3 linked regions of the Homo sapiens genome follow. The protein of the gene in region 1 purifies or fractionates together with the protein of each later gene. This does not show direct contact. Each region holds a gene or a part of one and is shown in the gene's direction. Other genes may lie near its edges.

The links.
Region 2: the proteins of KRT6C (region 1) and WWC1 purify together in Homo sapiens (co-immunoprecipitation; one large-scale study listed by IntAct). This does not show direct contact.
Region 3: the proteins of KRT6C (region 1) and SULF2 purify together in Homo sapiens (co-immunoprecipitation; one large-scale study listed by IntAct). This does not show direct contact.

What each region holds. Positions count from the first base shown.
Region 1 is NC_000012.12:52,468,016-52,470,805, reverse strand, and holds the end of KRT6C (keratin, type II cytoskeletal 6C), read left to right. Parts: intron 1-175; coding exon 176-301; intron 302-915; coding exon 916-1,136; intron 1,137-1,360; coding exon 1,361-1,395; intron 1,396-1,508; coding exon 1,509-1,744; 3' UTR 1,745-2,290; downstream 2,291-2,790.
Region 2 is NC_000005.10:168,424,145-168,427,644, forward strand, and holds part of WWC1 (protein KIBRA), read left to right. Parts: intron 1-3,500. UniProt on the Homo sapiens protein: Regulator of the Hippo signaling pathway, also known as the Salvador-Warts-Hippo (SWH) pathway.
Region 3 is NC_000020.11:47,656,906-47,660,193, reverse strand, and holds the end of SULF2 (extracellular sulfatase Sulf-2 isoform a precursor), read left to right. Parts: intron 1-463; coding exon 464-497; intron 498-741; coding exon 742-795; intron 796-1,801; coding exon 1,802-1,832; 3' UTR 1,833-2,788; downstream 2,789-3,288. UniProt on the Homo sapiens protein: Exhibits arylsulfatase activity and highly specific endoglucosamine-6-sulfatase activity. It can remove sulfate from the C-6 position of glucosamine within specific subregions of intact heparin.

The sequences.
Region 1 (2,790 bases):
CGTCTGTGACTCCAGAGTTTAGTATCCACCCACCACATAACATCAACTTTTCCTCAAGTTTCTTGAGGAGAAGCCATTAGGTCCACTTCATGACATGCATGATACACAAGTGAAAGTCATCGCTCCCAGGTAAGAACCCGTAGACACTGTCTCTCTCTCCACCTCTGGGCTGCAGTACGAGGAGCTGCAGGTCACAGCAGGCAGACATGGGGACGACCTGCGCAACACCAAGCAGGAGATTGCTGAGATCAACCGCATGATCCAGAGGCTGAGATCTGAGATCGACCATGTCAAGAAGCAGGTACAGTGAGGTGCAGTGGAGGAAAGAAGCATCATTTTTTGCTAGACCCATCAGGCAGTCATTAGCCATTATTTGATATAATTCCTGAAACGTAAACCAACACTAGGGTGAGGAACATGTGTAGTTCTTGCCCTCAGTGAGAACTCAATAGAGAAGTGAATCCCACCCAAGAGGATGAGCCTCTGAGGCACAAGCAAGGCCAGGTCTCAACAGTCAGGTAAAAAGTTACCACCTCCCCTACAGATGGTCATAATTTTGTATATTTTAATGTGGCATCCAGATGTATTCCTCAAAATCATTCTTGTAGTTTTGAAAACAGCACTCAGTACAAACCGAGCATTCATCTTCCATATGGCTTGTTTTTGGGTCCATTGTAGTGTCTCCCATAAGATGCAACGCACATTCTCATGCGGGTGCTTAATACAAGGGGCATAGGACTTTGTCACTTGACTCCCAGACTAGACAAATATTGCCAAATGGAGAAATACTGGACAGGAAGAGTCAAAGCTCATTCTCTGTCAATTTTGGGTTACAGGACCCTGGTTCACTAAACAAGGGCCAGCCTCCTCCGGAGGAGCAGACAAGAAGTTCCTTCTCTTCCTTTCCCCTCCTAGTGTGCCAGCCTGCAGGCTGCCATTGCTGATGCTGAGCAGCGTGGGGAGATGGCACTCAAGGATGCTAAGAACAAGCTGGAAGGGCTGGAGGATGCCCTGCAGAAGGCCAAGCAGGACCTGGCCCGGCTGCTGAAGGAGTACCAGGAGCTGATGAATGTCAAGCTGGCCCTGGATGTGGAGATCGCCACCTACCGCAAGCTGCTGGAGGGCGAGGAGTGCAGGTAGGTAACTGACGCGACTTCCTCCAACAGCTGAGTCCATCTTCAAGGTTCCTGGCACTGAGCACAATTCTAGGGTGCACTGCTCATGGCCGTAATTGCTCTTCTTGAGAGAAAACTAAAAGAGCAGTTTCCCATGGACTCTTCCACCCACCGAGGCTGCCCACACTGGTCCAGGGAAGGAAGAGCTCTCTGAGGTCTCACCCTCCCTGTGTTCCTCTCCACAGGCTGAATGGCGAAGGCGTTGGACAAGTCAACGTCTGTAAGTACCTTTGCTTGCCTTCCTCCCCTGCCCTCGCACTCTTCTGACTGGGCTCAGGCCGGCAGGATGAGCTCACCGTGGCTTCTTGTGTCCTTGTCCCCTCCCCACCACAGCTGTAGTACAGTCCACCATCTCCAGTGGCTATGGCGGTGCCAGCGGTGTCGGCAGTGGCTTAGGCCTGGGTGGAGGAAGCAGCTACTCCTATGGCAGTGGTCTTGGCATTGGAGGTGGCTTCAGTTCCAGCAGTGGCAGAGCCATTGGGGGTGGCCTCAGCTCTGTTGGAGGCGGCAGTTCCACCATCAAGTACACCACCACCTCCTCCTCCAGCAGGAAGAGCTACAAGCACTAAAGTGCTGCCTCCAGCTCTCGGTCCCACAGTCCTCAGGCCCTTCTCTGGCTGCAGAGCCGTCTCCTCAGGTTGCCTATCCTCTCCTGGCCTCTAGTCTTCCCTGCTCTCCGAGGTAGAGCTGGGTATGGATGCTTAGTGCCCTCACTTCTCTCTGTCTATACCTGCCCCATCTGAGCACCCATTGCTCACCATCAGATCAACCTTTGATTTTACATCATAATGTATTCACCAATGGAGCTTCACTTTGTTACTAAATTATTAATTTCTTGCCTCCAAAATTGTTCTCTCTGAGGCTGAGCATTATAAGAAAATGATCTCTGTTCCTTTTCATTACTGAAAATCGCCTGGGGCTTATTTCAGAACAACTTCCACTTATTTTCCATTGGCCCCCAAACTCCCTAAGTTAAAAGTATTGTGAACCCCCGCCCCGCAGTATGCATGGAAGCACAAGTGACTAGTCGTATGATGTACACAGTCTTTCTCCCTGTGATGATTTCTCTGCTCTTTGCTCTTTGTAATTTCTAAATAAAGCAGGTTTTAGAATAATGCATGGTACCAATATTTCTTCAGCTTTTTCAGTTGACAAACGCCTTTTTATTTTTAACTGATAATCCATATCCCCATGTGCTTAAACCTTCTCCTTTAGAGAGGTTCGATTAACAGCACTATGGCATCCTGATATTCAGGTCTCTTCTCAGATTAGATTCCTCCTAAATGTTTGGCAAGTGGAGCGGGAGGCACCTGGTCCACCATGATTGTCCACTCTGGTTTTACTGTATGCAGGAACTGGCAGCCCAGTCCCTCAGACTTGGTCTCTAAGACTACTCCTCCTTATACACCGGTGCTTGGCCTAAATGCCCAGTGGAGAAACATTTTTGGCCAAATAGAGTAAAAGTCATTTGGGAAGAAAATAAGATACTTTATTTATACTTAGAATTGCCTCATGACTAAGAAAATTATTTGACAAGGTGTATCAACAGCAATCAATATGTGCCTACTTAGAATTGGACTTACACCTCTGGAAATGTATCCTGAGGAGACCGTGC
Region 2 (3,500 bases), on another chromosome or scaffold:
TCATTCTAGTCGATATTTACTGACTGCTTCTGTGTGCTGGGTCTTTGTATGGCAAGTATATTTATTCAGTGGATGTTTATTAACTCAGTATTTTTGAGGTCCTGTGTGAAGGGTTTTCAGTAGTAGATTCTGTCCTCCAACAGACATTTAGCACCTCATAAAACTAAATGTCAGGTCATCCTGTGCTAATGGATATACATGGATTCATCTATTCATGATTATAGATATGCTGGGTGCCAGGCACTGGGTTGGTCACTAAGGATTCTGTGTTGAAGACAGACAGGGTCCCTGTTCTCATGAAGCTTATGTTCAAATGGAGGCACAGGGAATAAACCTGCAACCAAACAAGCACTACAAAGAAAATAAAACAGGGAATGTGATCCAGCCTTTCTGGTTAGAGGTGGGACTGCCAGGGCAGGTTGGGTTGTGAAAGAAGATGACATTTGAGGGTGTCTTGAATGGTGAGATGGAGCCAGCCTTGGGAAAAGCAAGAGCAAAATCTCTGAGGTCAGAGCAAGGGACTAGAAGGGGAGCCAGGAAGCCATGAGTCAGAGGTAGGGGGTTACCAGTGAGGCTGGAGAACTAGGCAAGAGTCCAGATCCTGAAAGGCCTGGTGGGCTGTGCTAAGGAGTTTGGATTTTATCCTAATTGCACTGGGGACCCATGTGACCGTTTGAAGCCAGGAATGATATGATCTGACTCCCATTCTGCATGGGGTCAGAAAGAACATTTTGGTGTTGGCCGGAATTTAAGTTGGAATCTTCAAAATAGAAGATGATGCTGACATTGACAGCTAAGATTTATTAGGAGAAAACCTTTTTATCTTTAGCAGCAACCACATAATAAATCATAATAGTTAACTTTTATTGGGGATATATTATGAGTTGGGTAATGTGCTTGATACATGGTGAAATCAGTTATTTCTATTCTGTCCATTTCACTGGTGAGGAATTGGAGATTCAGAGAGGTGATGTCACTTGCCTTAGGTCACCCAGCCAACAAGTGAGGAAGCAGGGATAGGAACCTGAGTGTTTCTGGCCCCGGAACCCAACCCCCTTATTGTCATGCCTTAGGCTGGGAGGCAGTTCAGCATGCACATTCATGCCAACTCCTGGTGCTTGGGGCCCCACCAACCCCATCTGGCTCTGGGTGTGAAGGTCAGGACTGAGTAGGATGCTCAGTAAACTCACCTGGGCCTTCTTGGCTTTCCTGGCCACAGTAAAAATAGCTCACAATAATCATAGCTATGATATATAGCGTACAGGTGTTTAGGATTTAGGTACTTCTCTGCATATTTACTCATTTAAGCCTTACAACACCTCTGGGAAGTGGGTGCTATTTTTAATCTCCTTTTTTTTTTTTTTTTGAGATGGAGTCTCACTCTGTCACCCAGGCTGGAGTGCAGTGGCACCATCTGGCTCACTGCAACCTCCACCTCCTGGGTTCAAGCGATTCTCCTGCGTCAGCCTCCCGAGTAGCTGGAATTACAGGTGCACATCACCATGCCTGGCTAATTTTTTTTTTTTGTATTTTTAGTAGAGGCGGGCTTTCACCATGTTGGCCAGGCTGGTCTCGAACTCCTGACCTCAGTTGATCCACCCACCTTGGCCTCCCAAAGTGCTGGGATTACAGGCGTGAACCACCAAGTCCAGCCCCTTTTATCCCCATCTTAAAGATGAAAAAAGTGAGGCACAGTGAGGTTAAAAGACTTGTCTGAGGTTAGTCCCACAGAGTGAAATGGCAAGACCAGGACTGGCACAAGGACCACCTGCTCAGAACGCACACTGTTATCCATGTGCTGAGTTCTGTCTACAAAAAGCTGGTGCTCCTGGCTCCAGGTGAGGCCAGCTAGAAGCAGCCAGACCCATGTCAGCTCTGTGGCTCCAGGCATGGGCAGGAGTGGTGCTGCTGTGCCCAGAATTATCCATGTGTGTACAAGGGCCAGTGGGAGCATGGTAGGGAAATGAGGTTTCCTTGTTAACGAAAGGCTTTGAGTGCCAGTGGTTTCCTTAGAAGAGGAGCCGAGAGATCCCTGGGTTTCCCTCATCAGGAAGGGAGTCTTGCTGAGTGCTCTCAAAATAAAAGCAAGCGCCCTACTATAGCAGGTGGCAAGCCTCAGAAAATTGTTCCCTGGAGAGGAGGGGGTGCAGGTGGAACCTCTAACAAGGCTCAAAGAGCATGCCTCTGATATCAATATTAAGCCAAGTCAGGACACTCAGACCCCAGCTATGTCCTGTGAAGTGACCCCCTCCTCTCCCCTCCCTAACAGTGTCTTTGGGGCTTGTGGGCCTCAGACAGCACATTAGGCTGGGCACACACAGGTCTCGGGATGGCATTTCCTTCATGCCATCTCCAGAAGCCTTCCCTGCAGCAAGCAATGCCAGGCAGAGCTTAGACGCTAAGCAGGTTATGTGATTAGTGCCGCTGTTCAGTCAGCAGACAAATTAATCTCCTTAAGTGGTTTAGTGGAGGGTGGAGATGCGTGGGTCTGAAAGCAGGAGGTCTCCGCGGGCTCAGCAGGCATGGGACGCAGGCTCAGCTTCCCCATCACCAGCACTTGCAGTCTCCCAGACCCGCCTTGTCACCCATCGCCGTCCCCGGCCTGCCATGCCCTGGACTCTGTGCCCCTCAATGCTGCGAGCCCTTGCCCTGCTCCGGTCTGCCCGCAGGTGCTCAGAGGTGTTAGCTGTGAGGTTGTAAGATCTGGATCTGGCCTTCCCCGCTGCAAGGAGGGCAGGAATTGTCTTATTCATCTTTGTAGTTCTGAACATGGCAATGGGCCTGGCACATCGTGAGTGATCATTACTTGGGCAAGGAAGGAATGTGCAGCACGTGTTGAGTGCTTAGTTATGAGCCTCAGATCAGAGACTTTCAAGGGCCCCTGTTAAGGTTAGGGAAGAGGAGGAGCTGAATTCGGAGTGGAAAGGGATAGGCAGTGGAAGAACGGGTGCTTAATCTCTCCCTTCTCTGTCCTGAGGGTCCAGGGGCTGTTATTTTGCCCCAGGTGGGTAGGGATGGATCTGTTAGGTTGATGCAAAAGTAATTGCAGTTTTTGCCATTGAAAGTATGGATATCTACAGTGATAGGAACAGTAGTGGCAATAAGGATAGTTGTAATGAGTTTTGCAGAGCACTTTGCCTGCCTGCACCAATCTCTATATTAAGGACTTCCCTTATAATGTCTCGCTGAGTCCTGTCAACAGCCCTATAAGTAGGTATTATTATCCAAGTTTTACAAATGAGGCATCTGAGGCTTAACAGGATTAAGTCAGTATCTCAAGGTCATGAAGCAGTGAGTGGTGGAGCCGGATTTGAATCCAGGCAGTTCGACTCAAGAGCCTGGGATGGTAAAACACAAAATCACATGTGACTCCTTCCATCACCCTAAAGCAAACTTTTTTTTAATTTTTTTTTTTTTTTTTTTTTTTTGCTTTAGCATTTAGAGGTGGTTGGAATTTGGTGGAACCGTCTGTCTTCCATAGAGAGTGTATCAAAATTGGG
Region 3 (3,288 bases), on another chromosome or scaffold:
CCTCATTTTATGGAGGAGTAAGGTGAACAAGGTGGGCTGACCCCGGAGCCCACGCACTTGATCCTGCCACATCCTCGGGAAAACTTCCCCAGAGCCCAAAGGGGAACTCCCTCCTGCACTTGGTCAGGGCTCTTGGCTTTCTGTCCTCTGGAGCACAGATGTTCATGCCTGCATCTACCTCCCTCACCATAACTAAGGTCAGCGCTGAATGAAGCCATCAGGGTCCTGAAACTGATCATGGTGACACTGGATTTTAGGCAATCTACAAGGCTATCTAGGAGACTTAGGGCAGGTTCCCCTCATAATTCAGTCTACCCCTCATAATTCAGTCTACTCTGAGTAGGGAACACTATCAGCATCATGGGATTGTGACAAAAAAGCATAAGATGGTTTTCTGGTGTGTTGGGGTTGTTTTGCCTAAACTATCTGCTCCTGTTTTGTTTTTCATTTCTCCTTCATTTAGGACTTAAAGATGGAGGAAGCTATGAGCAATACAGGTATTTCGTTTTATTATTAAAGCCTAAACAAAGTTCTCCTATCTTGGCCCATCCTTCAGTCTCATCTCTGTGAGTCTGCACCTGTTATCTTGAGAAACTGCCCTTCCCTCTGGTCTGCCCGAGACCAGGATCACCCACCAAAGATAGGTGTCACCTAGGAGACCTTCTTTGTATAGTTCTTTGGGGACTTTTTCTTTCTTGGTGATGGTTAACATTCATTCTCCTTTGACACTTGAAAACTTAGGCAGTTTCAGCGTCGAAAGTGGCCAGAAATGAAGAGACCTTCTTCCAAATCACTGTGAGTTGAGGAACCAGCTTACAAATAGAAATCTGGTTCTGACCGCTTCATTTTGCCAATGCTATTCTATTTGCATGCCATTTCTTACATACCACCCTTTGTTTGTTCTCATGATGAGGGTGGGGGGGAAGTACTAATGCACATCTTTCCCTAAGAAAACACTTGAATCCATTTCATGTTTTAGATTAATGCCTTGTCCAGTACACTGCTGTTCTCGCTATAATCTGTGCTTGGTAAACTTGAGCTATTACTTAGAGGTTGAGAAGCATTTAAATATTACAAATTGCTAGGCATCTTGAAGGCTGTGGCTACAAAAGTGCTAACTGATATACAACATCAGTAGTAGGATGGCCTCATTAAATGGTTTCCAAAAAGCCCATGCTACAAACTCTCACTCCAGTGCCATTGGAGGCTGACAGGGACTAAGAGACTGGCAACCTGTAAAGTTCACCTCTATTCTAAAGGGAGCAGGCCAGTTTGCTCCCTGCAGGAATGGGCTGAGGTTCGCCAGATTTTCTCATTCGTCTACCAAATCCAAAAATGCAAGTATGTGTGAGAATTCTTTATCATTATCATCTAATTTGACATTAAGTTAACCATGTGGGCAAATTATCGCCCTTGGTGAACTGCCACTTGCAACCTCTGGTCTACTCATTTCTTCCTTTATATGCATATAAACCTGTGTGGCTTTAATAGGACATTAGTAACAGGTCACCTAAGCCTTTCTTCGGTGCTTCTAGAATTAAGGTACAGAATCTTTACATATCACAATCTCCTTAGCCACTATTCTGTCCAGATCCTTAAATGCCATCCTTGCCAGGCATTGGGTGTATAAGTAAACAAAAAATTGAGGTGACTAGGTGGTGGCAATCCCGTTCTAAGTAACCTAGAAATATTCATTCTCAGCAGCCTTGAAGCAAAGCTTCCTCAGCTATAGGACCGATTAGGAAGTCATGATAAAGACCATGATAGCTAAGTGCTAAGATGAGTTTGTTTTGTTCTTTAGGGGACAACTGTGGGAAGGCTGGGAAGGTTAAGAAACAACAGAGGTGGACCTCCAAAAACATAGAGGCATCACCTGACTGCACAGGCAATGAAAAACCATGTGGGTGATTTCCAGCAGACCTGTGGTATTGGCCAGGAGGCCTGAGAAAGCAAGCACGCACTCTCAGTCAACATGACAGATTCTGGAGGATAACCAGCAGGAGCAGAGATAACTTCAGGAAGTCCATTTTTGCCCCTGCTTTTGCTTTGGATTATACCTCACCAGCTGCACAAAATGCATTTTTTCGTATCAAAAAGTCACCACTAACCCTCCCCCAGAAGCTCACAAAGGAAAACGGAGAGAGCGAGCGAGAGAGATTTCCTTGGAAATTTCTCCCAAGGGCGAAAGTCATTGGAATTTTTAAATCATAGGGGAAAAGCAGTCCTGTTCTAAATCCTCTTATTCTTTTGGTTTGTCACAAAGAAGGAACTAAGAAGCAGGACAGAGGCAACGTGGAGAGGCTGAAAACAGTGCAGAGACGTTTGACAATGAGTCAGTAGCACAAAAGAGATGACATTTACCTAGCACTATAAACCCTGGTTGCCTCTGAAGAAACTGCCTTCATTGTATATATGTGACTATTTACATGTAATCAACATGGGAACTTTTAGGGGAACCTAATAAGAAATCCCAATTTTCAGGAGTGGTGGTGTCAATAAACGCTCTGTGGCCAGTGTAAAAGAAAATCCCTCGCAGTTGTGGACATTTCTGTTCCTGTCCAGATACCATTTCTCCTAGTATTTCTTTGTTATGTCCCAGAACTGATGTTTTTTTTTTAAGGTACTGAAAAGAAATGAAGTTGATGTATGTCCCAAGTTTTGATGAAACTGTATTTGTAAAAAAAATTTTGTAGTTTAAGTATTGTCATACAGTGTTCAAAACCCCAGCCAATGACCAGCAGTTGGTATGAAGAACCTTTGACATTTTGTAAAAGGCCATTTCTTGGGAGTTTTTTGGTGTGTCTGTTTTTTTAAAGTATTCAAGATACTACCAGTCAACATCTTTTTGGAAGAAAATGCCTTGGGTTTAGAAGATTTTCTTAAAAGGGGAGTAGATGGTTGTAGATTGACTAAAAAGTCTACCATACTTCAAGGGACTACAGGTAAGTCTCATAGTATACCAGCTTTGGTACTTCATTTTTTAAAAAAGTATTAATCAATTGCAAAGAAATTCGCCTTGGCCAACCCTTCTTTGTGTATCAGGTAGTCTAACCTGATACAAGTAGTTGACAGATTTCAACTATCAATCACCAGTCCAACCCATTTCTCATTTAACAGATGACGGAGATAATCCCTAAAAGCACCCACATTTGTTTCAATGCCCCAAACAGGCCAAGGCTCCCTAGCAACTCCCTAGTGGCGTTTTTTAACTTCTCAGAAACTGTTACCATTATTTGAAATAGGCTTCCTTAACCTCCTTTACCCTTAACCCAACAGGGATTTAAAAAA